Linked DNA regions of Homo sapiens. The protein of the gene in region 1 purifies or fractionates together with the protein of each later gene. This does not show direct contact. Each region holds a gene or a part of one and is shown in the gene's direction. Other genes may lie near its edges.

What was found.
Region 2: the proteins of SLC17A2 (region 1) and SLC12A6 purify together in Homo sapiens (affinity purification with mass spectrometry; 2 studies listed by BioGRID and IntAct, with this or other methods). This does not show direct contact.
Region 3: the proteins of SLC17A2 (region 1) and SQLE purify together in Homo sapiens (affinity purification with mass spectrometry; 2 studies listed by BioGRID and IntAct, with this or other methods). This does not show direct contact.
Region 4: the proteins of SLC17A2 (region 1) and ABCD4 purify together in Homo sapiens (affinity purification with mass spectrometry; 2 studies listed by BioGRID and IntAct, with this or other methods). This does not show direct contact.
Region 5: the proteins of SLC17A2 (region 1) and ANO10 purify together in Homo sapiens (affinity purification with mass spectrometry; 2 studies listed by BioGRID and IntAct, with this or other methods). This does not show direct contact.
Region 6: the proteins of SLC17A2 (region 1) and DPY19L4 purify together in Homo sapiens (affinity purification with mass spectrometry; 2 studies listed by BioGRID and IntAct, with this or other methods). This does not show direct contact.
Region 7: the proteins of SLC17A2 (region 1) and TAP2 purify together in Homo sapiens (affinity purification with mass spectrometry; 2 studies listed by BioGRID and IntAct, with this or other methods). This does not show direct contact.

Annotation. Positions count from the first base shown.
Region 1 is NC_000006.12:25,927,889-25,932,308, reverse strand, and holds the start of SLC17A2 (sodium-dependent phosphate transport protein 3), read left to right. Parts: upstream 1-1,617; 5' UTR 1,618-2,032; intron 2,033-4,420. UniProt on the Homo sapiens protein: Acts as a membrane potential-dependent organic anion transporter, the transport requires a low concentration of chloride ions. Mediates chloride-dependent transport of urate. Can actively transport inorganic phosphate into cells via Na(+) cotransport.
Region 2 is NC_000015.10:34,334,771-34,339,014, reverse strand, and holds the start of SLC12A6 (solute carrier family 12 member 6), read left to right. Parts: upstream 1-1,233; 5' UTR 1,234-1,683; intron 1,684-1,998; exon of another isoform or gene 1,999-2,262; 5' UTR 2,263-2,334; coding exon 2,335-2,605; intron 2,606-4,244.
Region 3 is NC_000008.11:125,018,970-125,022,740, forward strand, and holds the end of SQLE (squalene monooxygenase), read left to right. Parts: intron 1-1,814; coding exon 1,815-1,902; intron 1,903-2,783; coding exon 2,784-2,976; 3' UTR 2,977-3,314; downstream 3,315-3,771. UniProt on the Homo sapiens protein: Catalyzes the stereospecific oxidation of squalene to (S)-2,3-epoxysqualene, and is considered to be a rate-limiting enzyme in steroid biosynthesis.
Region 4 is NC_000014.9:74,292,935-74,296,705, reverse strand, and holds part of ABCD4 (lysosomal cobalamin transporter ABCD4), read left to right. Parts: intron 1-256; coding exon 257-373; intron 374-726; coding exon 727-852; intron 853-1,507; coding exon 1,508-1,558; intron 1,559-3,457; coding exon 3,458-3,552; intron 3,553-3,771. UniProt on the Homo sapiens protein: Lysosomal membrane protein that transports cobalamin (Vitamin B12) from the lysosomal lumen to the cytosol in an ATP-dependent manner. Targeted by LMBRD1 lysosomal chaperone from the endoplasmic reticulum to the lysosomal membrane.
Region 5 is NC_000003.12:43,615,265-43,619,035, reverse strand, and holds part of ANO10 (anoctamin-10), read left to right. Parts: intron 1-3,771. UniProt on the Homo sapiens protein: Does not exhibit calcium-activated chloride channel (CaCC) activity. Can inhibit the activity of ANO1.
Region 6 is NC_000008.11:94,726,361-94,730,131, forward strand, and holds part of DPY19L4 (probable C-mannosyltransferase DPY19L4), read left to right. Parts: coding exon 1-81; intron 82-3,771. UniProt on the Homo sapiens protein: Probable C-mannosyltransferase that mediates C-mannosylation of tryptophan residues on target proteins.
Region 7 is NC_000006.12:32,835,793-32,840,322, reverse strand, and holds the start of TAP2 (antigen peptide transporter 2), read left to right. Parts: upstream 1-1,583; 5' UTR 1,584-1,670; intron 1,671-2,085; 5' UTR 2,086-2,089; coding exon 2,090-2,582; intron 2,583-2,671; coding exon 2,672-2,786; intron 2,787-4,530. UniProt on the Homo sapiens protein: ABC transporter associated with antigen processing. In complex with TAP1 mediates unidirectional translocation of peptide antigens from cytosol to endoplasmic reticulum (ER) for loading onto MHC class I (MHCI) molecules.

The DNA of each region.
Region 1 (4,420 bases):
CTCACTGCAGCCTTGAACTCCAGGGCTCAAGCAATCCTCCTGAGTAGCTGGGACTATAGGCATGTGCCACAACATCAAGCTAATTTTTGCATTTTTTTGTGGAGACGGGATCTCCCTATGTTGCTAAGGCTGGTCTTGGATTCCTGGGCTTATGCGATTCTCCTGCCTCAGCCTCCCAAAGTCCTGGGATTACAGGCATGAGCCACTGCCCCTGGCCATTATAACTATTTTCATTGGCTTATCAGGCACATGATAACTATAATAAATCAATAACCAGAATTTTTAAATAAAGAAAGGAAGGAATTGTTTCAACTCTTCCTGCTACCCCTCTATCCCTCAAAAGGGTAGGCTGAATGTTGTCCTCCAAAGATATCCATGTCCTAATCCCCAGAACCTGTAAATATATTACCTTATATGACAAAAGGGACTTTACATGTTTAATAAGTTAAGAATTTTGAGATGGGCAGATTTTCCTGAATTTTGCAGATGGGCCCTAGTGTAATCACAAGGGTCCTTATAAGAGACAGGCAGAAGAGTCAGAATAAGAGAAAAATACTTCAAGATGTTACACTGCTGGCTTTAAGGTGGAGGAAAGGCCAAGAGCCAAAAAATGCAGTGGTCACTACAAGCTGAAAAGAAAAAGAAATGGATTTTCCCCTAAAGCCTCTGGAGGGGGCACAACCTTGCCAATACCTTGATTTTGGCTCAGTGAAACCCATTTTGGACTTCTGACCTTTAGAATTGTAAATAAATAAATAATTTTGTGTTGTTTCAAGCCATCACAGTTGTGGTAATTTACTACAACAGCAATAAAATAGAATTAAATACAGAGATCTGAGGAGTTGAGTAGGATAAGCCTACTCCAGCAGGTTATTTCGGGAGTATGGTGAGACTCACTAGGATGGCGGAACTCAATTAAGGAAGTCTGAAGCTGATAAGCCAGAGAGGGAAGGCTCTCATTTCATTTTATAAGGGTTGCGTCACACTAGGAAGATCCAATAGCAACCACAGTCTCAAAATTAATGATTACAAATAGGACACAATTCCAAGAGTCGGGAGCCAAGCAGAAAATGGATTAGGGAAGACATGGATGATATGAAACAGGAAGGAGGGGTACAAGGCAGCTTCCTGGGAAGTTGCCAGGGCAGTCACAGTTCACATTCATTAGGCTGTGGGCACCAAATGCATATGGAAAATCTAGCTGACTTAACTGAACTCCTGAAGAGGAATGAACACCTCATTTATTGAGGAGCTACTACCAATTAGAATATGTATTTCATTTGTTCAATAACCCCATGAGTACAGTAACACAATCCTTGCTTTACTAAAGCGGAAGCCAATTCAAAGAGGTTCAGTGACTTGTCCAAGCTCAGGGAAAACACTAGGAAGTGAATATGGGTCTGACTCCATCACTGATTTCAGGAGCCCTGCCCTTTCCTCCACACCATGCCCCCTTGCTTTCAGAAAAAAAGGCTTGTTGACTGAATGGTTGTATGCACAGTTCAAAGCAGAAACACACGATGACATCTTTTGAGATACTCTAACAGTGAGAACTTGAAAATGAAGTTAAAAATTAAGCGGCAAAACCAAGCCGAGGCTTTCTGAGAAAGTGGGGCCAAACCTGTTGCCGTCTGACTGCCACGTGGCTCACTATTTATCCCTGTAAAAATCTGCAAAAGTATTTGAAAGGGAAGAAGGGACAGAAAACTCCCTCCTTTTCCAAGTTAGCCTTATAGTCTAGGGCTTAAAATACTGGTTTAATGGTGAAGGTAAGTGCTTTTCTTCTTTTTGGGTAGAAGGATTATTACTAACTTACCAAAGGTCCATTAAGGGGAGGGAACAGTTTTAGGAGAAGTCAGAGAAAAGACATTAACAGCAACATAAGGATCTCCATCTGGTAATATTGCCTAATTCCAAAATGAAGAGACTCTCTGAAAAAGATAACTGATTCAATGAAGACCCTAGGGCAAGGCTTGAGAAGCCACTGGTACCAATGGACACTGTGGACAATGGTCATTTCTCCAAGGACGCTGTGAGTATTAACTGTGATGCTGTGATTAGTCAGACTGGGATTGGCTGTGGAATGAAATACTGATCAGAACTGACAAGATTTGTGTTTGGGACTGTGGCTAACGAGTCTTTTCAGACTTCTATATGAATTTGAAATGGTCTCTCAGGAAAAGGAGAACATGGCCGGGCCTGGTGGCTCACGCCTGTAATCCCAGCACTTTGGCAGGCTGAGGCGGGCAGATCACTTGAGGTCAGGAGTTTGAGACCAGCCTGGCCAACATGGTGAAACCCTGTCTCCACTAAAAATACAAAAATTAGCAGGGCGTAGCGGCGCGTGCACCTATGCGCATGCATAGTGCGCGTGCCAGCTATTCAGAAGGCTGAGGCAGGAGAATTGCTTGAACCCAGGACGTAGAGGTTGCAGTAGTTGAGATCATACCACTGCACTCCAGCCTAGGTGACAGAGTAAGACTCTGTCTCAAAAAAATAATAATAATAAAAGAAAAGGAGAACATGACCAAAGTTATGAATAAGACTGAAGGCAAGAAAATTGTACGCTTGTAGAGATCACCTAGCTTGTTGCCCTCATTGTACAGCTAAGAAAAGGCACCCAGGGACATTGTGGTCAGCACCAATTTCTCAGAAAGATAGGCAGATGATGAGAGGGCCCTCAGTTTTTCTAACACTGAAGGAATTGCTTCTATGTTTTCTGGTGAACTCCTCCCCACTCATCTTGAGGATTCCAGGCCAGAAGAATCCACTTTAAAAAAGAAACATTTAAAACCAATTTAACAACCAATCAAAGGCACTTTTATAGAAATACATTTCATTTGCTGTAGGCCTGTATTTATGGATCTGAGAGGGCTAGACTGCCAATATTGTGACTGTTTATTATTATTGCTGTTGCTAGTATCTAGAATATTATACAACATATAACACTTTGCAATTTACGAGGCATGTCTCATACTTTTGTTTTCACTCCAAACTGCCCAGTGAAGTAACATTATCCCAATTCTTCCTATGAAACAGTGAAAGCCCTAAGAGTTTTTGAAACTTTACCTGGTTTACTCAATTTGGGAATGGCAGAGCAGAATTCAGTCCTTGAATATCCTCCCACTGCAGGTTCATGCTCTTTGATCTAGGTGTAACATTTACTCTGAGTAAACTAGGACTCTGGGCTAACAGAGATGAAGCAAGACAGGCTGGATATTAGGAGAATCTAAGAGCAATCTAACGACCATTATAATAAAATCATGAGTTCTAGACTTAAAAAAAGGGAAAAACCTGTTTTTTTGCTTATGCGTATACCATAATATTTACATTATTTATTTTTTTCTCAAATTCAACCTATACTGTGTCAAGTAATTTTTTTTAATATAACATTTTCCTTTAACTTAATTTCAATTCATTTTTCTGTGTCTACTTACAACTTTGGCACTAGAATTCACAATTTTTTTTTAGAGGTATATCTCCTTAAAGGGAAGGGTTCTGACACTGTTACATGTTCTCAATTGTTTGCAAATAGGTTAATAATTATTCCAGTGTCTCTAAGTACATATCAACCATGCCAGTGTTCAGCCTCCATAATTTTATTAGCTTCTGTGCTTATTTTGGAAAAACATTTCCCATTACCATGAAAGACCTCAGTTTAGGATGGTTTGGTATGTTAGCCTGATTTCTGCATTCGTCTCATGCAAAGGAAAATAGGAAACGAAGAACTGAAATTACCTATTGATACAAAATCAAAGTAGCATTTGAAACCATAAAACTTAAGTAGGGCTTTTCATCCTTTCTCGTTAGACAGCAACAGAGAATGGGAAGAAAAACTAAAGTGATGGGTTTGTGATACAATTCCAGTAACATAAAGAGCAAGGAGAAGTAGTTTTGTTGTGTTTATGTTTAATATTCAAAGCTCAACCTAAAAGTATTTTTCATTATCAAACTTCCTTCTAGAATAAATGATTAAAACTTGATTTAAAATATACAAATTCTCCTTTATAATACCTCAAAATGGAGCTACCCCATTGAGTTTTAAGCTTGTGATTAAAATATTACGAAAACAAAGGGGAAGTTGTAATAGGTAGAACAAGCAGTAGTCTAGGCATTAGGGGATCTGGTGCTGGCTCTGTGCATCATGTGGTTTCAGGCAACTTTTCAAATTTTCTACGCAAATTTTCTTATCAATAAAATAAACAGTTGGGCCAGAGGATCTCTGAGTCTCTTTCAGCTTTCAGTGTTTATAAGATTGGAGAAGTTGGTGGGAAAGCTTTAAGTGGAGTGTAAGTAATTGCAGCTGCATGTACAGTTAAAGAGTTGCCTTCAGCCAAGCCACGGGATCTTGCATAAAAAGTGAAATCAAATAGAAAATGGTCCAAACTCTGGGTTTGACCACAGATGACTTCAGCTAGGA
Region 2 (4,244 bases), on another chromosome or scaffold:
AAACAAAACATTGGTGAGTCAGAATTTATCGAACACCACCATTTATACATTAAATAAACACTAAGAAAAAATATTCTAGCGACAAATGTAGTGGTGAAAACATGGAATGGATTTGAGAAAATACATCAACGTCTTCTCCAGGTATAAAAAAACGTATTATTTAGTGGAACTTTCAGTCTGACTAGAAAGTGGACATAGCATTTATTAAAAGGACAAGAACAACAACAAAAAATTAAAGTAGGACAAATGTGTTTAAGGTACTTTATAGTTTTATTTTTATTTATTTATTTCTTTGAGACGGAGTTTTGCTCTTGTCCCCCCAGGCTGGAATGCAATGGTGCGTTCTCGGCTCACTGCAACCTCCGCCTCCCAAGCTCAAGCGATTCTCCTGCCTCAGTCTAAGGAATAGCTGGGATTACAGGCACACGCCACCACGCCCGGCTAATTTTTGAATTTTTGGTAGAGACGGGGTTTCGCTATGCTGGCCAGGCTGGTCTGGAACTCCTGAGCTCAGGTGATCGATCACGCCCGCCTCAGCCTCCCAAAGTGCTAGGATTACAGTCGTGAACCACCGCGCCAGGCCTACTTTATAGTTTTAATTTTTTTTTTTTACATAAAAGTGGTTTATTTGTATGTAGACCTCTACATAAAAATTACAATGAGGGTTATTCCCAGGTATAGGAGCGGTGTTTCTGGTTAAAGAAATCATGAATGATGTTTTCAGAGACACTCATGAAAGAGAAATGGCTCCCCGGGTTCTGAGGGTGAGGAGCAGCGCCCGCCCTCTAGGATGCTTCCAGAGTGAGTGTGCAGCACAGCCGGACCGAGGAAAAGGATTATTCCCCTCTTCACGCGGGTCGGGCCGTGCCCTGGACTACAGCTCCCGTCGTGCCCCTGGCCACTCGTATTCGGCCCCGCCCCGCCTGCCGTGTCCCGCGGCGAGCGCAGGCGCGCTGCACTCGGTCACCGCGGGCTGCGGCGGCTGGGCGGGGCTTTCGGGCGCCCGCGGGACGGTTCCGCCCTCTCACTGCACCCCCGGGCTTCTCTTCGCAAGGTTCACCTCGAATGAGGAACAAGCGGGGAGGGAAGGGAAGGGCTGCGGCGGCGCGGGCGCACCCCGTCGGGCCCGGGGCTGGGGGAGGCCAGGTCACGTAACTGCTGCTCTGGCGTCGGGCCGGGGAGGGGGCGCCAGCCCCGGCAGCGCGAACCCTGCGCGCGCCGCGGCTCTGAAACAGTTACCGGCTAGTAAACAACAGCTGCGCGCGCACCCGCATCAGCTGGCGCCGGGATACTGCACCTGCGACCTCCTTCTCCCTCACCCTGCTGCCCAGTCAGGCCAGCCTGCGTGGCCGTCTCCTCCTCTACTGGGACCCTGAGGAAGAACGACGAGGGGGTGACCTGCGCCGGGGCGGGGGTAGGGGAGAACGCGCCTCCGGCAAAGGGGGTGGCTCGTCCTGTCACACGCAGGAGAAACCTAGCGAGCGGACCGTGGCTCAGTGGACTAGCTACGACTTGCCACGACTCTGAGCTGCAGTCCGAGGTGTCTTGATCCGCTAACCTCCTCCCAGACCCCGAGGACCTTTCTGCTAGGAGAAGAGCGGGCGCGCCACCCCCACCGACCTCTCGGAGACAGGAATCCGCTCTGCCCCTGCATCCTCCTCTGCTCACCCTTCTCTCAGTAGTGTGGGTTATTTTTCCCGTTATGCATGTGCACCTTTCCCACCAGACCCAAGTGGATTGTCGACATCAAAAACACCGGGTGGCTTTGCATACACCTCCCCCCAGCCAGACCTGTGGGGTATTCACCTGATACACAACAGGTGGCCGGGTGTACACCTTTTAGCAATCTGATCCACGCTATAGTCGCCTGATAAAGGTTTGCCTGCACGCACTTCGCCCAACTAGAACCGTGGGACACTCACCAGATAAAGGACTACCTCGACAGGAAACTGGGGGCTGAGGGGAGGGAGGCTTCATCTGCTGCCCTGAGACCATGGCACTGAGCCTTCAGCCCCGGACCAGAGGGGTTAGCTAGGTAGCTCTTCATTCTGAAGGAAAGAAGTCACACAAGATTGGCATTGTTTTGTCTTTTTGTTTTTTGTTTTTTTCTCTCTTAAAAAATATATTCACCTATTGGTGATGCACTTTCTAGGACAGTCGGCTTGAATTCTGAGTAGAAGTATTCTTAGTTGGGGCTTTTTGTGTGGTGTGAATCAAGGTTATTGAAATGTGTTATTTTTCAAGTTATCTTTTGTATTGCAGTCAAAAGTAGCTAGCGTAAGAGGAAGATTTTGCGAGGTTCCCCCCACTTTTTTTGTTCTTAAAAAGAACAAAATGCATCCTCCAGAAACCACCACCAAGATGGCTTCAGTTCGGTTCATGGTGACACCGACAAAGATCGATGACATTCCAGGTTTGTCAGACACCAGTCCGGACCTCAGCTCTCGATCTAGTTCCCGAGTAAGATTTAGCTCCCGGGAAAGCGTGCCTGAAACAAGCCGGAGTGAGCCTATGAGTGAGATGTCTGGGGCCACCACTTCGCTGGCAACTGTTGCACTGGATCCACCCAGTGACCGGACTTCTCACCCCCAGGATGTCATCGAGGGTAAGTAGAAACACAGACCGCAGCATACTTTCATTACTGGGTTCTTTATCCAAGATGACCATCTATGGATCTGGAAGATCATAATCATATAATTATGATTATAATAGTCATCAGGAACCAAGGCATCTCTTTGTGAGATGCTTAGGAACTCTTTGGAATAATAGCATAGTGGCTCTTTGCAGTAGTAATTTGGTATGTGGGAAGGTGTATGACAAGAAGGAAGGCAAATGTATATTTTAACTTCCTCATTTTTGTCTTCTTAGAAATGAAATGGGTATTTTGGTTAAAAGTGAATATCAAAGAATGTAATCGTTTTCAGCACACAGAATCCTAAATTTTAAAATTTAGTGAGTTGGATATGTGTTCTGTAGCCATCATTGGCTATTTCAGTCTGCTTTAAGACTGGTTTCATGGAGTAGTTACTGGTCGTATCTTAGCAGCTTTCCTCCAAGACTTCGAATGTGTATTGCAAAATTCTTTTTTGAAATCTGTATTTTTATGGAGACCTTGACACAAGTAGCTAAGCCCACTCAGGGTGATGGTGGGTAGACCTAATGTGCTATTCTGTCAAATGGAAGACTTCTGAAAAGGCTTTTAGGGCCTGATTCCCATGTAATTTATTCTCTCTGAGCTTTAGATGGAAAGTCTGATGATTAGAGTTAGCAGGTAGCACACAAGCCACTCCTGGCTCATGTTGACTGCTACAGACCTTTAGCTTCCTAAACCAGTTTGTGTGTGTCAGCTGGCTTGGTTTTATTTGAGGTACTGGGAAGAGGTGATGGAAGAGAGAGAAGAGAGAAAATGGGGAGATCATAACATTTTTTGGACTCTGAAATTTAAAAGTTTGAGACCTGTACTGCTTTATATATTTAGTTTTATGCTGTGTTGTAACTAATGTAATCTTTTAATGATAAAAATTTCCCTTAAAGACTCTTAAAATAATATTCCACCCAAGTTTGAAAACCATAGCCTCACCCACTGACTTGTGAAAGCAAGGCTTACTCACCATTTTCCGGTGTCAGGAAATATTGTTCCTTTTAACCTAAAGGGTTCAGGAAACCAGAATGATTTTAGTTCCCTAATTCTGTTTGTGTTTTTAGTATCTGGAGACAAGGTAGATTTGGTAAAGTTTACAGTCCTAGAATTCACTCATCCTTGACTAATCATTTTTTCTTTTATGGAGACATAGGTTGGTTCTCAGACTTTACTGTTTTCAACTTTTTGACAAATTTTACAGTGTGTCATACACTGGATTAAAATTACAGTATGGAATACAAATTTATCATTTCCTCTTCCTCCAAATTAATTCCAAATTGTGGTTTTAGTTTTTATCCATCATGCTGTATTTAGGTTGTAAAAATTCCAGGTAAAGACTATACCAGTGTTAATTTCTTAATATTGTAATTATCATTAGGTAATTTATAGTTTAGTTTGTTAGACTTGTGACTTACATGTTACAGAATTGTATTTTTATTCTTTGGAAAAGTGGACTTAGTAATGTGTTAGACCAGCAGAACAGGTTCCTTGTCCAGTCTGCGGTTCTTACGTTACCCTTAAGCATTCTTTACAGTCTAAAGTGGTATCCTTTTACACTATAGGGGTAAAAATGGGACTACAGGGGTAAAAATGGGGACATATC
Region 3 (3,771 bases), on another chromosome or scaffold:
TGAATTCCTCTGGTGCAGACTAGATCATGCTTGTCCTCACACACACAAGACTGTGATGGAAGGTGTTTTTGGCCATGTATTAAAAGGCAATGTAGTCTTTTTCTTCCTAACACTAGTTTCAATTTCTTTTTAAAGTAGTATTTTATAAAATGAATACAAGCTGTTAATCTTGTCCCTGTTGAAAAGCACAAGTAACAATGCATTCACCCTTTACTTATTTGGATTATTTTGGTGCTTTTGTTACTGTTTCCATATTATACAGAGGTCACGGTCAATGTATATATTAGAGAAAACACAACTTAGCAGAAGCAGTGTTAGAAATGGAGGAAAAGAGGCCAGGCGAAATGATTCATGCCTGTAATCCCAGCACTTCAGGAGGCCAAGGCAGGAGGATCGCTTAAAGCCAGGAGTTTCACACCAACCTGGACAATAAAGCAAGACCCCATCTCTACAAAAAATTAAAAGATCAGCAAGGCATGGTGGCGTGTGCCTGTAGTCCCAGCTATTTGGGACTATATAGCTCACTACAGTGAGCTATATATAGTGAGCTATATGAAGTGCCACTGCACTCAGCCTGGGCAACAGAGTGAGACTTCATCTTCTAAAACAAACAAACAAAAAATTAAAAGAAATGGAGGAGAAAAGGCAACTGTGCCACCTCCTCACCACAGCAGTGTACACATCAGTTTAATAGTAGGTTAATGAAACTAGGCTTTTCAGTTTTCAAGAATAAATACTGACTCATATGCCACTACTCTAGTATATTTGCAACATAGCTATTTGTATGATCTGGCTGAGGCCCTAGTGATAAGTGCTGTGGTTATAATTACAAAAGATGATACAATAAAAATGCTTTCTGTAGCCTCTATAACCATTAACTCTTCCTAAGGAAAAAAAACAAAACAAAAACCCCACCAATCTCACTGGTTATGATTTTTCCAAACAAATTTCTCTTGCTAAATTGGCATAGAAGTTAAAATGGCTGGTTGGGCAAATGAAAGTAACTAAGTTTAGAGTTTTGGGCAAATAAAAAGAACTAAGTTTAGAGTTTTGGGCAAATAAAAAGAACTAAATTTAAGAGTTTTTCTGAGCTCTTCTTTCTAAGCTTTTCTAACTTCTTGAGTTCTTAACATTATGAATTTAAATCTACCAACAAAACAACATTTTTTAAAAGTTACAAGATTGGAGGAGGAAAGACCTTTATTGGAGCAAAAGTTTACCTGTTGCATCCTTTACTTTTTAAAATCTGTTGTAAAGAAAAATCTGGGCATACCTGAACAGAACATTGATTCTAAATGGTTAAAAAGGTTATCAATTGATTACACTACATTGTGAGGGTTTTATGAGTTACTTTGAAAGGTATTAAAAACTTTATAGATATAAGGAATTATTATTTATCGCTACTCACAGCTCTCTTCACTTGATAATTTACTGCTTAGTTAGAGATACTGGTTGGACATCTTAGAGACTGGGAATTTGGTTTCTAGAATTGTGTTAAAAAGAGCTTCCAAAGTATTTTGCATCACTTAATGAATTAACAGCAAAATCAAGGAAGTACCTTTTAAACAACTCTTCCAAGACCTAAATATTAGTAGTTATTTACTAACAGAAAAAAGTTTATTCATATTTATATTACTCTCCATAATGCTGATTATGGAATTCAGAAGAAATCCTGGTTGTTGAAATTCTAGGACTAGATATTTAAAAATTATCTGCAAGATGTAGCGTTTGTTATTTCTCATTTTTTCTGATATATCATTAGCATCCTACATAAGTGTGTACACATATTTGATTATTTTACAATTTTATTTTAGATTCCCTGCATCAACTAAGAAAAGCCTGTTTTCTTTATTTCAAACTTGGTGGCGAATGTGTTGCGGGTCCTGTTGGGCTGCTTTCTGTGTAAGTTGTGATGGCACAGAGGATACAAACCTGCCAGATTTTCTTAGGACTGTTCAGTTGATGAATTACTGCAAATCTTTCTTCCTTACACATTTTGATATTTTATTATCTGTTAGTATCCCAATGAGAAGGTGGCCCAAAGAAATGAAGAAACGCAATATTTAGTACTGTTTTCTTTCTAGGGAACAGCAGTTAAAGGTGGTGGTAGAGGAAGCTATAACCCTTGATTAAAATAGAAGCTTGTTTTTTGCCTATGGATTTATCCATATGTTCTGGTCTGTGGGAGCCAGGAATAATTGAGAAATTTTAATTTAAGAATTAGTTTCATTGAAGTACGGGGACTTATACAACCCAGTATTAGTTTTGAGCGTACAGACATATGTGGAACTATTCTTGGAAAGTCTACAAAGTGAAATCTATCGAGTTATTTCTCATTTGCAAAGTGATCCTTTGAGTCATTTCTCATAATCTATAATCTGAATGTTAATACTGATATTTTTAAAAGCCCTACATCCCAACAGACCAGGCCATCTAGATATTTCAGCGTGGTGTCTCAGGATGAGTAAACAAACAGCTAAAAATATATGACTTATGTAAACTAGAGTTACAGGAGTTACTAGCTTTTCTGAAAGGGATATATTCTAAGTATTTTTTCTTAAAAAAAAAAAAAGGGGGGTGGGGGGTTTGCTCCTGCCATCAAACTTAACATGCAGACATATTTGTGACGTCCTCTAAAATGTAGAATGTTTCATACAGAATTATGATGCTTGGGTAAAAAAAAGTAGGATGTTTGTTGAGCTTCGTAGATTATATGTAATTGGAACCTTTGGAGTAAATTTTAGTTTCTGAGTCTTACCAATATGTATTTTTTTCTATTACAGATTGTCTCCTAACCCTCTAGTTTTAATTGGACACTTCTTTGCTGTTGCAATCTATGCCGTGTATTTTTGCTTTAAGTCAGAACCTTGGATTACAAAACCTCGAGCCCTTCTCAGTAGTGGTGCTGTATTGTACAAAGCGTGTTCTGTAATATTTCCTCTAATTTACTCAGAAATGAAGTATATGGTTCATTAAGCTTAAAGGGGAACCATTTGTGAATGAATATTTGGAACTTACCAAGTCCTAAGAGACTTTTGGAAGAGGATATATATAGCATAGTACCATACCACTTATAAAGTGGAAACTCTTGGACCAAGATTTGGATTAATTTGTTTTTGAAGTTTTTTGTATATAAATATGTAAATACATGCTTTAATTTGCAATTTAAAATGAAGGGGTTAAATAAGTTAGACATTTAAAAGAAATGATTGTTACCATAAATTAGTGCTAATGCTGAGGAGAACTACAGTTTTTCTTTTGAATTTAGTATTTGAGATGAGTTGTTGGGACATGCAAATAAAATGAAGAATGAACTTTCGTGTCTTTTTGTTTCTTGTTGTGGGCTCGTTTACATAGCTTCATGATAATGAAAAAGAAAACCAAAGTGGGATGAAAAGTGCAGAGGGAAACCTGTTCTATTAAATAACTGGGGAAGTTGCCTTAATGTCTTGACCTTGATTTCCTCATCTATCCAGTGAAGCAATTTGATAAGGTTATTTTCTTTAAAAAAAATTACTTATTTATTTATTTATTTTATTTTGGGGCTGTGACTCAGATTTGAACCGAAAGGTTCTTTGCTGAGTTCTCTGAAAATATCAGATTCTGACAGGAAAGGCAATCAAGGGCTTTATAAGTTCCACTGTATAGCAACATTTATAAGGCAGCCCAGGATGACATCAAGAAACAGTGAGTGAACAAGTAAGCACTTGTAATACCCGGCATAATACCTTAAAATCCGTTAGGATTTACTGAGTTTATCTATAGTAAATT
Region 4 (3,771 bases), on another chromosome or scaffold:
TGGACCTTTCAGTTCCCACTTTTTCAGGGGATTAACTAAGGCACCGTAAGATGCAACTCTCTAGAACCCTGTTTAAAGGCCCTGGGATTTAGTTGCCCCTAGGAAACCAGCCTTGTCTGGTTCCCTCTTCCCATAGGGTCAGTGTTCACAGCACTGTGAGGCAAGGTCAAGAGCAGAGGTGATGTGAAAGTTTCTTGTTCTCTCTACCTTTGGGCCCATCTCCCTGGGTCCAGCTACTCTGTGTCATTGGCTCCAGGGACCAGCGCATCAGCCAGGACGTGGAGCGATTCTGCCGGCAGCTCAGCAGCATGGCCAGCAAGCTCATCATCTCCCCGTTCACCCTCGTCTACTACACTTACCAGTGCTTCCAAAGGTGAAGCCTCCCTCCTCCCCAGCCTGGTGTTTCCCCAGAGGGCCCTCAGTCAGCTCTCCCAGGTCAAGGTCCAAGAGAAGCTTATTTCCCCTCTCTCCCACCGTACCTTACCACGTGCTCACCCATCCCACGTGCTCAGGCCCCTGCCCTTCCTTTGGCCCTGTGTTGCAGTGTCACAGATATCCTGGCTCTGAGAGCTCATACCAGATGCCCCCACATAGGAGCAGAGGGCCCATTGGGCCACTCAGATTGGACAGGGGCTACCTGAGAGGGAACAGGAGTCAGGGCTGAGGCATGTGGGGATAGGTGGCACCCCACACCCTCTCCCTTCTCTCCCTCTCTCTCTATTTCAGCACAGGCTGGCTCGGGCCTGTGAGCATCTTCGGGTATTTCATCCTGGGGACCGTGGTGAACAAAACTTTGATGGGCCCCATTGTGATGAAGCTGGTGCATCAGGAGAAGCTGGAGGGAGATTTTAGGTGTGTCTCCCTCACTTGAGGTTTCTGGGCTGGGGCATAATAGTTAAGGAAGGGGATCTGGAGTAAAACTGCCTAAGTTCAAATCCTAGCTGTGCCAGTTACTAGCTGTGTGATCTTGGAGAGGTCTTTAACCTCTCCAAGCTTCAATGTTCTTGTCTCTAAAGTGGAAATGGTACCGTTGCCTACTGAGAGGATTAGGAGGATTAATGAAATCATACCTGAGAAGGTCTGAGAACCGTGTCTGCCTGGCCATCACCATCGTCATTGTCATCTCTTGGCCTTCTCACTGCCCTGGCATAACCGCCCTGTCTTGGATCAGTTGGGTGTGGCAGCCAATGGATCCAGTGCCTGCCCTGTGCTTCTTGTCCCCCTCCTTTGGGCCAGGCCCTGGGAGGAGGAGATGCTGTGAGCAGGAATACCCCTGTCCTCTCTGCAGAAAGCTGAGGGGCAGCCCTGTCTCTGCAGAGCTCCTGCCACACCACCTAGCCCTGGGGTTTTCTACCCCATAACAGTCCAGGAAAGGGTCAGACTGAGGCAGCCACGGTTTTGAGGCAGAGCCGGGCTCCGCTTGGGCGGTCTTTGTGATCCAGGACTCCAACAAGAGTGAGGCCAGTACTCCCTGTTGTCAGCACACATTTCCCTTTGGTCCGCCCAGGTTCAAGCACATGCAGATTCGGGTGAATGCGGAGCCTGCTGCTTTCTACAGGTGAGTCTGGAGAGATGGTTCCCCTTCTGCCTTGCCAGAGCTGAGAGTGGAGAAGGAAAGATGAATCCTCAACCCTCCCACCACCACCGAGCTCAGGGGCTGAGTGTTGTCACACTTGGCTGTGACCCTCTCCCTCTACCTCCCCCTGCCCTTGCCTGCCTCATCCTTAGGTCCAGGGGTTTGCTTCTGAAGCTGGTGGTTCCTTACTGTGGCCAGCTTTAGTCTTAGTGGCCTAGCGTGGGGCCTGAAATTGTCAAATGAATGAATGCCTCATCCTCTTGCTGGTGACTGTAAGACATCCGTCTGCCTCTGCTCTTCTGTCTGTTAAGAAGCTTTCTTGCCAGTGCCTGAGGTTCAAGCCTGATCCTTTGTCTCCGTAGCGTGGGATGGAATGGGAGCTTCTCAGAAAACCAGGAGACCTGCTCCCCACAATGCTGTCTAATGGAGCCAAGCGTCTGGTCTCCTGACGGCAGCAGCAGGAGCAGCAGCAGCGGCATGAAATCCCATCCCTTCCCTCCAGGGCCAGAACCGGTCCCTGTGCTCTGCCTTATGTGAGGCCTCTGAAATCAGCGTTAGGATTGATAGTGCAGGCAGAGGTTTGCGTTTAAGAAGTGGAAGCTACTCCTTGGCTCTGTACTTGGGGTGGATGTGATAGCCCTGGGACCTTTGCTCCTCAGTCTCTGCTGCAGTTTGCAACCTCCACCACTTGAGGGCACCAAGAATACTGGGAATCTGCGCTGGGGTGGGGTTGTGAGGTGGGCAGGGCTGGGTGTGTAAAAAAGTTGCTTTTGGAGGCCGGGCATGGTGGCTCATGCCTGTAATCCCAGCACTTTGGGAGGCCGAGGCGGGTGGATTGCCTGAGGTCAAGAGTTCGAGACCAGCCATGGCCAACATGGTGAAACCCTGTCTCTACTAAAAATACAAAAAATTAGCTGAGCATGGTGGCGGGCACCTGTAATCCCAGCTACTGGGGAGGCTGAGGCAGGAGAATCACTTGAATCCGGGAGGCAGAGGTTGCAGTAAGGCAAGATCCTGCCATTGCACTCCAGCCTGGGTGACAGAGCAAGACTCCGTCTCAAAAAAAAAAAAAGAAAAAAGTTGCTTTTGGATTCTGCAGCCTCTGCTCATGAAGCTCTGGGGAAGGCAGGTTAGTTTGTAGAGTTTCAGATGAGTTCTTCTGTGGCCTCTGTGCAAAATCTGAAATCTCCCTCCACCTTTTCTGCCTAGCGAATTTCTTCCCATCCTTGAAACCCCAGATCACCTCCTCTGGAGAGCCTTCCCAGACTCCCTTAATGGCTAAGCCTATCTGCTGCCATGGCCCTGAGGGCACACTTAGTACTCCTGATTCCAAGTGAAGAATGCAGTGTGCCTGCCTGCCCTCTGGACTGAGAGCTCCTCAAAGACAGAGATAATTTTCTCATTTCTTTATTGCACTAGCTAACTAGTGCAATGCCTGGTACACCTAGTGACCGCTCTGTGTATGTTTATTTAACAATAGTTTTTATTTATTGAGGGCTCCTTATGTGCTTGGCACTTTATATTTAGAAACTTTTAATTCTAACTCTAACCTATTACATAGGTATTATTGGCTCCATTTTATAGATTAAAAAAACTGAGGCTTGGAGGCTTAAGTAGCCTGCCTGTGTCACGCAGCTAGTAACTGGCCAGAGCCAGGATTTGAACTAGGTCTGCCCAACTCTAGAGTTTATGTTCTTCACACAGACAATACCATTAAGGCATGACTGAAGCCGTGAATGGGCGCTACCAGTAGACAGATCCTGAGACCAAGATCATTTGAATGGCCTTGGTTTCTAAAGGAGGGTGTGATATGGGACAGGCGGCCCCCCAACCTGGCTGAACCTCTCCAGCCCTGTGGACATCCCAGCCTTTCCTTGTCAGAGCTGGGCATGTGGAGCACATGAGGACAGACCGCAGGCTGCAGAGACTCCTTCAGACCCAGAGGGAGCTGATGTCCAAGGAGCTCTGGCTGTACAGTAGGCGAGGGGGCCCAGGGAAGTGGGAACCATGGGGTTGGACTGGTCTGCTTCCCTTCCCACACCTCTCTACCTCCTGTCTGCAAGGATAAATGTGCCATGATGAAGGAATTAACCGGGGATGAGGAGGGGGGGCTGTTGCCTTTCTGTGAGTATCCTCAGGAGAATGAGGATCCAGAGAGTCCACGTGGCCCTACTTGGCGTCCTGCTCCCTGTCTT
Region 5 (3,771 bases), on another chromosome or scaffold:
TCAGGAGATCAAGACCATCTTGGCTAACACGGTGAAACCCCGTCTCCACTAAAAATACAAAAAAAAATTAGCCGAGCATGGTGGCGGATGCCTGTAGTTCCAGCTACTCGGGAGGCTGAGGCAGGAGAATGGCGTGAACCCGGGAGGCGGAGCTTGCAGTGAGCAGAGATTGCTCCACTGCACTCCAGCCTGGGCGACAGAGCGAGACTCTGCCTCAAAGAAAAAAAAAAAGACGTATAACTAATAAGGTGCCTTTTAATTACTTTTATATGCCATTTCTAAATCTTCTGGGAGTTACAGACTAGAAAGCATGATCTGAGTAATCCATGCTTATTATCTCTTTTATTAGTCTATGAATTGGCAGTGGGAATCTTTCAAAAACAGAGTGCCAGATGCTGACTCCAGTCCCTGGGTCTTTTGGAGGAAAGAGTAATGGCCTTTACTCTTTACCAAGTGTGATCAACTTGTCCCAGTTTTAAAGGTCTGTGTCTTGGGAACTTCTTCAGCCCAGGGCCACCTCACAGCCTCTAGAGCATTTCTACTGAGATGCCACAGTATATTTCTGACATTATTCTAGCCAAAACAAGCAAACTCTTGGCAGTATCTGGGGTAATGAGAGTAGATGGAGGCATGAGTGAGAGGAGGAAATATTCTTGTTTTCCTCACTGGTGCTTCCATGGCTAGACTCAGTTGAGTGATTGTGTGCAGAGGTTAGTGCAGCATCTAATCCGGCCTGGGCTGTTGTGGCAGGACTGTCTTCAGTATCCTGTGTCTCACCTCTCCTGTACCTTCCTGTGGAATCTTAAGGGCATGGAGTTCCCTCAGGGAGTGGTCCTCACCAGCTTCCCTAAGTTATCTGTGTTACTGAGAAACTGTTATAGTAAGGATGGGTGTATGCGGGGCTGATTCTCCATTCTCACGTCTGTCTACATCTGTGTAACTCCCCAAGGCAGCTGCCCTAGGTACAAGGAGGGAGGCTCCCACAATTGCTCTCACCATTAACTGCCTGCCTGTAGGTAAGTAGTGTCTCTGCATCTCGGGTCCTCTGGAGTTGGCCTGGCCCTCTTTTAGCCTGGCCATTAAAATTGCAACTTTTGTCCTATGGAGATTCCTCTCATCTTCCAGCTTGAGCAGTGCGGTCCTTCATTTTTCTCTTACTGAAGTGTTTCCTAATCTGCTTCATAACTGAGAATACTTTTCGTTCCTGTTTCTCTTTGAATCTGGAATAAGGTGATTCCTGAAGACAGTGTTATGCATTTCCTTCTTAACCTTTGAGTTTGTGATAATTCCATTGACTTTTTTTTTCTTTACCCAAATTCAGGAAAAGAATAATCCCCAGAATAAAGAATCCATTATTCTTTTCCTGATCCTTGTTAAAATAACTCCCCACTCTCCACACACTCCCCTGACCTCTCCATGGTGAACTCACAGTGTGTTTCTCTACATCTTGACCACAATGGTCAGACTTTACCTCTTGTGGGCCAGTGATCCAGTTGTTAATGTAAAAGCCACATGAATTTAACTTATTTGTAGGTCTCTCTTTGACCCTGTGTGCAATTCGACACATGATAAAGAACACAATTTGGGATCGCTGTCTCATAATCCCACGCCCCAGGGTCTGTGTGGAACCTGGCTGCTCTGTGCCTTATAATCAGCCTGGCTGCTGTCCTGGCTGAGAGTCCCGATCAAAGGAGGATATTGGCTGCAATACAGAAATCATTCTACCCTCTGGTGCCCAGGAAGTCTGTATGGTCAAATCATTGTTTTTAGATTGGCCCCAACTGGAACCATAAGGTTTGTGCTACACCTGCAGGAAGACTTAAAGCCTTCATGTCCCTGTCTGGTATTTTGTTTCCATTTTTTCATCTCGTATGCTTGGTAATGGTAGAGCAAGTTCCCATTAAGACCCTCTGGTAAAAGTAGATTCCAGAACTCAGTTTAGGCCAAGGCTGCCATGAGGCTTCTTGTTTCCACCGCTTTACACCTTACACTTGATATTTACGTCATTGAGCCAGCTAATTAGAGAAGAGAGACTGGAGCAAGCCTGGCCAGGGAACTGCAAGATGAAAGTCTGTCACATCCATAACCCTGCTGCATGAAAAAACACAGAGAGGGGCAGGAATAACCCAAAGAGAGGGGATCCCCAGAGGTTTTACTATACAGGCAATTCCCTGAGGAGTGGACCTACCCAGGTGGGATTACCATATGGGGACAGACATTTCCTGAGCAGAGAGCACCCCTGGATGGAACTTCAGGGACAGAAAGAAGAGACAGCTTAAGTAAGCTGGCCTGTATGTGCACTGTGGCATAACGGCTGGCACAAGTGTAGAGTGACTGAAAATGGGCACAAGAGGAGCAGAGCTGGTTCTTACTGTGGACCGTGTCACTGCAGTGTTCAAAGCTCCAAGAGCATCTTATGTCCTGGAGCCTTAAAGGGGCTAGGCTTACCAGCTTGCACTAAAAAAGCCCAGCAGCCTGTCTTCCCTCTACCTACATGATTCTCATTGCTTAAAGCAGAATCCAGGCAATGCCAGCACTTGTATTGGTCTTGAGGTTATTATTGAGCTGCAGCATGCACCTGCATGATTGTAGCAAGGCTAGTGTTATTTTTTGATGATGAGGGCATAATATGGGCTTTGACTTTATTGGCTGGTAAGTTCACAAAAAGAAAAAAACAAAAGGTTGTCTTCTGATGGCATGGTGTTGTTCAAAGAGCATTGGATTCCAGTTCTGCTTCTGCCACACCGGTGGTGTGACTTTGGGTCTGAGTAACATGATAGCGAGGGCTTTCTGAGTAACATGATAGCGAGGGCTTAACTGATCTCTAAGATTCCTTCCCCTCTTAAAGAGTCTATCATTGTCCAGCTCTCTGAAGCTTTGCAGTCTCCTGGATAGGTGCGGGATGGAAGATGATATGCTTATGTACGGATCCTTTTATTTCACATACTGTTGAGTATGTGACCTTTCCTCAGAACAAACCACATTTTAAATCTAGGTAGCTTTTATATAAGGTTGGCATGCTTTTAATCTGGTGAAGAAAAGCAAAATATCTTGTATCATATAGTTAAAAAATGCCATTTGGTAGCCGGGCGCGGTGGCTCACACCTGTAATCCCAGCACTTTTGGAGGCCGAGGCGGGCGGATCACAAGGTCAGGAGATCGAGACCATCCTGGCTAACACGGTGAAACCCTGTCTCTACTAAAAATACAAAAACTTAGCTGGGCGTGGTGGCATGCCCCTGTAGTCCCAGCTACTCGGGAGGCTGAGGCAGGAGAATCGCTTGAACCCAGGAGGCGGAGGTTGCAGTGAGCCGAGATTGCGCCACTGCACTCCAGCCTGGGCAGCAGAATGAGACTCCGTCTCAAGAAAAAAAAAACAAAAAACAAAAAATATATACACATATATATATGAAATTTGGCTTTAACTGAAGTGTGTATTTTACATTTGCTGTTGAAAATGTGAGGCTTCTATACTATTTTACAAATATAGAGCCACTTTTTTTCTGATTATAAAAAATACCCACTCATTAAAAATCAAATTAAAAAAAGTAAATAATAAAATAAAAATTATCCCAAATGCTACTACCTAGGAAGAACAACTTGGAGAAATATATCTGAGTAGCCATTGATGCAGCTTTTATTCACGTAAACAGACACACACACACACAATAGCTTGATGTGTGCATATACACATGCTTCAGGATGTGGACTTTGGTGTCAGGCTGTCTGGTTGTGAGTCCCAGCTCCCCTGTTTGCTACTGCAAGATATTG
Region 6 (3,771 bases), on another chromosome or scaffold:
AGCCAAAGTCTTCAGAAAATAAGGAATCTGCCAAAGAAGAGAAAATCAGTGACATTCCAATTCCTGAAAGAGCTCCAAAACGTAAGTTAGATAGACTTGGAATTTGTGCTACTACAAAAATAGTTTACACTAGAAAGTATATTTTATGTCAATATTTTAAATATACATATTTTGAGATTAAGTATATGCTCAGCTTTCACTAGGTTTTGGACAACCCCCAAATCTCACTGGCTTATGACAAACATTTATTTCTAATTAATATTACATGTTGTGGCTGCAGTTTGGCTGTCGTAGTTTTATGTGTTGCGAAGGAATAGTCCGTATTTGGGAAAGATTTTTCTTGTGACGTAGGAAAAGAGGAGGCAGAATCATGCAATGTCTCTTAAAGTTTCTGCTGACCTGGCACACTATCACTTGTACGCACCTTTTATTGGCCAAAGCAAGTCATATAATCAATTCAGACGATGGGATGTGAAGTATACTTTGATTACAGGGAAGTGTTCCAGGTCACATGGTAGTGGGCAGGGATATATAAGATTTTTAAAGGGAAGGAGAAAATAGTTGTGAATAATAATATAGTTTACCACACCCTGTCCTTGTGATTTATTTCTCTCCCTCAGACAAAATACGCTTACTTTTTCCCACACCCGAAAACTCTCTCTTATCTAGTCACAGCCTTAATCTTGAACCCAAAGGCTTATCTACATCAGGGCCAGCTATGACTCATTCTAATCCAGAGATCTATGAACTAAAAAGACAGGTTATCTGTTTTATGTCGGGGGTTCCCCAGAACACCCCCATGTTTGGTTATTAGCTGGAAGGACTCACAAGTTTCAGAATGAAGTTGTATTTACAGCTATGATTGATTGATTGATTGATTGATTGATTTTTGAGACAGAGTCTCGCTCTGTCACCCAGGCTGGAGTGCAGTGGCACGATCTCAGCTCACTGCAACCTCCACCTTCTGGGTTCAAGCGATTGTCCTGCCTCAGCCTCCTCAGTAGCTGGAACTACAGGCACATGCCACCACGCCTGGCTAATTTTTGTATTTTTGGTAGAGACGGGGTTTCACCATGTTGGCCAGTCTGGTCTTGAACTCCTGACCTCAAGTGTTCCACCTGCCACAACCTCTCAAAGTGCTGAGATTATAGGCATAAGCCACCGTGCCCAGCCTACAGCTATGATTTATTATAGCAAATAATATAAAACAAAATCAGCAAAGGGAAAAGGCCTATTTTGGTGAAATCTGCAAGAAACCAGGCATAGGCTTCCAAATTTCCACTCCAACAGAGTCACACAGGATGGGCCTGATTCCTTCAGCATCAAATTGTGACATTTGTAAAGTTTTATCTACCAGGGAAGCTCATTAGTGACTCAGTGCTCAGGGTTTTTACTGGGGGCTGGTCATGTAGGTATCCTCTGCCTACCATGTCCCAAAATTCTTGACTCCCAGAAAGAAAGCATAAACTACATTGTTTGTACAAAGAGGATAGGCACTGTTATCAGTTAGAGAATGGTGGGAACTCTCCTGAAATTGAAGTTCCTAGATGCCAGCCAAGAGAGCCTACCTTGCAAGCAGGGCTTTCTTTTTTTCCTTTTTCTTTTTCTTTTTTTTTCTTGAGACAGAGTCTCACCCTGTCACCCAGGCAGGAGTGCCATGGTGCGGTCTCTGCTTACTGCAACCTCCATCTTCTGGGTTCAAGCAATTCTTGTGCCTCAGCCTCCCGAGTAGCTGGGATTATAGGCATGTGCCACCACACTTGGTTAATTTTTGTATTTTTAGTAGAAACGGGGTTTCACCATGTTGGCCAGGCTGGTCAACTCCTGACCTCAGGTGATCCGCCTGCAAGCAGGCCTTTCTCAGGAAAGCGGTCTCAGGCCTGCTGTGTTAACTCTTTTCTGCACATCCCCCCACTCTCAGTATACACTGTTGGACAGGGACAGGATATCCCCTTACTCTGGGATAAGGAATCTGTTGTGTTTATGCCCCAGTTGTGTTCCTGGGGAATTGTTTTCCAGTTCATTGTTTTCCATGGTCCTTGATTTTACACTCTAGAGATCTTTTCTCTTCCATTTTCCTCTATAACCATATCTAAAGATGGGTTTGGAGAATGTGTCATCCTTAAGGGCTAAACAGCTTTCTCAGATTGCTTGCTCTGCACTAAAAGTTGAGGCCTATATATAAATTTGCTCAAGATAAAAGCTGTGGGTAATCTACAAATCTAGGTGAGGGGCTGGCCGCAAGAAAACTATATTTGGGAGCTGGAAAAATGAAGATCTATATTATATCATGACAAAACATTTGATAATACTGTTTCCTGTGAACAGTTGACAATACTATTTTTTTCTATCATTTTAGGTAATGAGATTGCAAAACAGAATGTTACTAGAGTGCCTTTGTTATTAACATCTGCATTTGACTACAGGAAAGAGATCTGGGTTTAGAATAGAATTGGACTATTTGTAAGTGGGAATAAAGAAGAAAATAGAGAATCCCAAAATTCTGGGACTTGTAATGTTGAAGTGAGAACAGTTTATTAACCAGGCATGGTGGCTCGCGCCAGTAATCCCAGCACTTTGGGAAGCTGAGGCAGAGGATTGCTTGAGGTTAGGAGTTCAGGACCGTCCTGGACAACATAGTGAGACCCTGTCTTTATTTAAAGAAAAAAAAAAAAGAAAAAGCTGTTTGTCTTTTTCAACCAATGAAAGTTAAAATCAAGAAATGGGAGGCCAGGCACGGTGGCTTAAGCCTGTAATCCCAGCACTTTGGGAGGACGAGGCAGGTGGATCATGAGGTCAGGAGATCGAGACCATCCTGGCTAACATGGTGAAATCCCGTCTCTACTAAAAAAATACAAAAAATTAGCTGGGCATGGTGGCATGCAACTGTAGTCCCAGCTACTTGGGAGGCTGAGACAGGAGAATCGCTTGAACCTGGGAAGCGGAGGTCACAATGAGCCGAGATTGTGCCACTGCACTCCAGCCTGGGTGACAGAGTGAGACTCCGTCTTAAAACACACACACACACAAATTTAAACTTAGGCAATATAGTGAGACCTCATCTCTACAAAAAATCAGAAAAAAAAAAATCAGCCAAGTGTGGTGGTGTGCCCCTGTAGTCCCAGCTACTTGGGAGGCTGAGACACAAGAATTGCTTGAATTCAGGAGGTGGAGATTGCAGTGAGCCGAGAATGTGCCACTGCACTCCAGCCTGGGCAACAGAGGAGATTCCATCTCAAAAAAAAAAAAAAAAAAAAAAAATTTAAGCCTAGGCAATACAGTGAGACCTCATCTCCACAAAAAAATTAAAAAAAAAAAATTAGCTGAGAATGTGGTGGTTCATGCCTGTAGTCCCAGCTACTTGGGAGGCTGAGGTAGGAGGATTGCTTAAGCCTGAGAAGTGGTGTTTGCAGTGAGCCAGGATCACGCCACTGCACTCCAGCCTGGACGATGCAGCAAGACTCTGTCTCAAAAAACAAACAAACAAAAAAGTTAAAAAATTTGAAAAATACAACGTAAGAAAGAAAATTAAATAGTCTAGAAATATCGATTACAAAATAGTATTTCCTCCCCAACTACAAAAATATATTTTCAGGGTAGAAAATGTGGAAAGTAGAGAAAAAAAAACCAAAACTGCATCCATAATTTCAGTAGATATAAATACTCTTAAAATTTTGGCATAAGTGTGGCTTTTTTCTATGTACTTATAGTTTTTTTTTTCACTTTTTGTGAAATTGAATCCTGCATTTTTTTCTCAACATATCATTGGCT
Region 7 (4,530 bases), 6.9 Mb from region 1:
AAATAACACTTTGGAGATATTGGATATTGAATATAAAGACAGACATTAAGGGTCTAATTTCATGATGTGTCATGCTGAATTGCAAGATGGCAGGACTATAATTTTAGAGGAAGAAGAGATCAGGAGGACTCCCCTAAGTGAGGAGTGTGGGGAAAATGTAAAAGATCCAGGTTAGAAGAAAGAGACACACATCATGAGATTTTCGGAATCATGCTGGAACTATGGACCATGTCACTTTCCAGAAAATAAAGGAAACAAATGCTTGAAAGTAGGAGCATGAGCTTGAGCATGGAGCTTTTTTCATTAGAGAGAGATTCTTAAAATGCCAGAATGAATAGAGTTGTAAAACTTTAGCGAGCCCCTACTTAAAATCCCTCCTCCCCACCACCACTATTTTAAACTTTAAGTGACTCCTTGGTAGTCACACAGGTAACATTTCAAAATGGTGATCTGGAATCCAAGCGACCCTTCCTTTGGGGAATTTGTTTGTTTGTTTGTTTTTAGTTTGGGAGGTGGTTTCAATCTGAAGAGTCCTTTCTGGAATAAACGAATCTTTCTGTTGCATAGGAAGGCTCTGGGTCAGGAAGGATATTTAAAAACCTAATTACTGTTCTAAACAGTGTTAAAATAGAACAAGAACCAAAGCTCAGTACGGGGCATTTCCCTCATAGGCTGAAGGTGCGCCCAACATAATTTGGAGTACAGACTCAGAGGCACCTGAACACGCGCCAGCTCAAGGTGCTCCGGCTGAGAAGGACGGATGAAGATGAACGCTCAGGGCCTACTAAATTCAAAGTCTGTACGTGAAAATCCCCTTTGGCCTGGTGAGATTGGTTGGAACCTTCTATTTAGGAGAGCCCGGCTCGCTCGCCTAAAACTGGAGCTTGCATGGAAGAGGGCACTTTTTTTTTTTTTAGACGAAGTCTCACTCTTGTCGCCCAGGCTGGAGTGCAATGACCCGATCTCGGCTCACTGAAACCTCTGCCTCCTGAGTTCAAGCGATTCCCCTGCCTCAGCCTCCCGAGTAGCTGGGATTACAGGCGTCCGCCACCACGCCCTGGCTAATTTTTGTATTTTTAGTAGAGACAGGGTTTCACCATGTTGGCCAGGCTGGTCTCGAACCCCTGACCTCAGGCGATCCGCCCGCCTCGGCCTCCCAAAGTGCTGTGATTACAGGCGTGAGCCACCGCGCCGGACCAGAAAGAAGGCACTTCTTAATAGTAGGCTCAGAGCTTGAAGTAGTAACTTTGAGAAAATTCAGTGATTCTCCAATTACAAAGCATTCTCCAATTACAAAGCAAGGACAACAGATAAAGTTGCCCTTGAGACAACTGTATTTTACTTAATGATAAAGAAACATTTTTGCAGTTTTATATCCCAGAGTAACCGCCACTAAAGGCGAGTGAGACTCATTGCAGGCCTGTACAGTGCGAACCAGAGTTCGGGCTCCAGTTCCGCTGTCTGCGGGTCTCGCGCGCCCCCTCCCGGCGGCCCAGCCCAGAATGAAGGCCTTGGCTGGGGAAGCGAAAGCGAAAGCTGCCCGAGCCCTGACGCCCGCCCTGGCCGAGCGTAGCTGGCGGACCAGAGCCGGTAGCGAGGTTGGGAGAGACGGAGCGGACCTCAGCGCTGAAGCAGAAGTCCCCGGAGCTGCGGTCTCCCCGCCGCGGCTGGTGAGTTGGTGCGGAGGGGAACCTGGAGCGCCAACAGGGACGCAGCCCAAGTGACTACCCACTCCACGCTCCTGCTTCCCAGTCCCTCTGCACCCGGCGATAGGAGGGAGCGGAGCCCGGACCACTTAGCTCGCCGCGGCAGGCGGGGGTGGGGGTGGGGGTCCGGGGATTTTTTTTTTTTTTTTTTAAGCACGAGGCTCCTGATGGTCATGCTTCCAGCTCCCCAGAAGGCCGAAAGCTGTCTGTCGTAGGAGGGGTGTACGGATGAGCACCGGTTACTCAGGAGAGCTCTCAGGGTTGAATAGGATAAAATGAGAAGCCGATGGACGGGTTAGGCGGAGCCGGGCGGGTAGGAGGGCAGGGACAAGGATTGGGACTCCACCCCCATGATTTCTCATCTCGTATCCGTTGACAGAGCCATGCGGCTCCCTGACCTGAGACCCTGGACCTCCCTGCTGCTGGTGGACGCGGCTTTACTGTGGCTGCTTCAGGGCCCTCTGGGGACTTTGCTTCCTCAAGGGCTGCCAGGACTATGGCTGGAGGGGACCCTGCGGCTGGGAGGGCTGTGGGGGCTGCTAAAGCTAAGAGGGCTGCTGGGATTTGTGGGGACACTGCTGCTCCCGCTCTGTCTGGCCACCCCCCTGACTGTCTCCCTGAGAGCCCTGGTCGCGGGGGCCTCACGTGCTCCCCCAGCCAGAGTCGCTTCAGCCCCTTGGAGCTGGCTGCTGGTGGGGTACGGGGCTGCGGGGCTCAGCTGGTCACTGTGGGCTGTTCTGAGCCCTCCTGGAGCCCAGGAGAAGGAGCAGGACCAGGTGAACAACAAAGTCTTGATGTGGAGGCTGCTGAAGCTCTCCAGGCCGGACCTGCCTCTCCTCGTTGCCGCCTTCTTCTTCCTTGTCCTTGCTGTTTTGGGTGAGTCAGGAGAGGACGTTGTGAGTTGGAGGTGGTAAAAGGGCCTGGGCACCAGCACATTCTTGTGTTATTTTTCATGCCTCTTTCAGGTGAGACATTAATCCCTCACTATTCTGGTCGTGTGATTGACATCCTGGGAGGTGATTTTGACCCCCATGCCTTTGCCAGTGCCATCTTCTTCATGTGCCTCTTCTCCTTTGGCAGGTAGGTGGTGGGCAGCTGGGTCCATTTGCTAGCCCCAAATCTTTATAGGGGTCTTCACTTCCCTAACTCCATTTCTAGGCCCTTTCAGGCGCAAAACACAAAAATACTTAAACTAAAATATGGTGAATGTAGTCACCATTCTGTTTCATCTATCCATTCATTTCTTCCTTCGTTCATATTCATCCAATATCTTCAAAGTTTATCTGATCTTATTATAGGAACAAGTTATGAGTGAAGGTAGTACAAAAGGAATTTAAGTCTCAGATGGAATGTCTCTCAGTTGTCTCTCAACATTCCTAGGTCCATGAAATTCCATTTCTTTCTGCCTCCTACCTCCTACCCCTAAGTCTGTCTCCAAAGTATCTCTCCAGGGTCACTCCCTCAGGATGGGTATGCTTCTCCCTTTCACTCTTCTTTCCCAGCTCATCTTGCCAGTCCCTGAAGATCTTACTCTGAGGCTTATCACCTTTCTTTCCAGAATCATTACTCTTTTCCCTTCACTTGCTTTCCTTTCTCTTTCTAGACATACTCAAACAAACAAACTGTTTGATAAGGCTGGGACTGGGATGAGGTGAGCGAGGCACCTGGGGTGCAAAGTTTAAGGAGGTGTGCACTCACCTTACCCAAATCCCAGCCGGCCTGATTGTCTCTATTTTTATGGTCATACTTAATTTAGAGTACCCTCGAAAACCATTTCATTGTGCCTTCATTCCATCCTGGCTGCTTTCTGCTGAAACTACAGTCGTGCACTGCATAACGAAGTTTAGGTCAATGATGGGCCACATATAAGATGGTGGACCCACAAGATTATAATACCATATTTTTACTGTACCTTTTCTATGTTTAGATACACAAATACTTACTTCTGTGTTACAGTCGCCCACAGTGTTAGGTGCAGTTATATGTTGTACAGATTTGTAGCCTAGGAGCAATAGGCTAAACTACATGGCCTAGGTGTGCAGTAGGCTATGACATCTAGGTTTGTGTAAGTACACTCTATGATGTTCATACAACGATGAAACCATCTAACGACACATTTCTCAGAACACATCCCTGTCATTAAAGTACAAACCCTCATTATATCATGTCTGACTCTCCCAAACGCCTCTTCAATATGGTAACTAAATTTGTATTAGAAACATATATTTTGTAAAATACATGCTTTTATGCTTTATATTTTTTCCTCTAAGTGTTACTGTAGCATGTAGTTGGTCTAAGAGGGATTTTCCAACTCGAAGGATGAAAGATGGGAATCACATGACTCTGGGGCTCCAGAGAATTGTGGGGGCAGGGAATTTATTATTGCAGTTCCCATGATGAAGTATCTATGATGACAGAGAAGGGCTTTGGGTATGGGGCAGGAAGGAGACCAAGGCGGAGGAGACGCACAGAGGGACAAGCCTGAGGGACGCTGGGACAGAAGCAAGCACTGGGATACTTGTTTTCACAATATCTTTTCCCTTCTATTGTAGTTTTCTATTGTGTCTAGTACAGAGTGCACTCCATAAATACTTGTAAATTTGTACATGTTATGATTTTGTTCTCACATCTAGCTCACCATGTCTCCTCTTTCTTCTTCCTCTGTGTATTCCTTACCTCTTCTCTCTCTGTGTGTCTGTCTCTCATTTCTTTCTCTTTTGCCCCTCCTGGCATGCTTTCCCCTGACTTTGCGCTTCTCTGCACTCCTGGCTTGCTCCTCTGTTTCACCCGCTGGCTTGCTCCTTCTCTGCATCTCCCTCCCCTC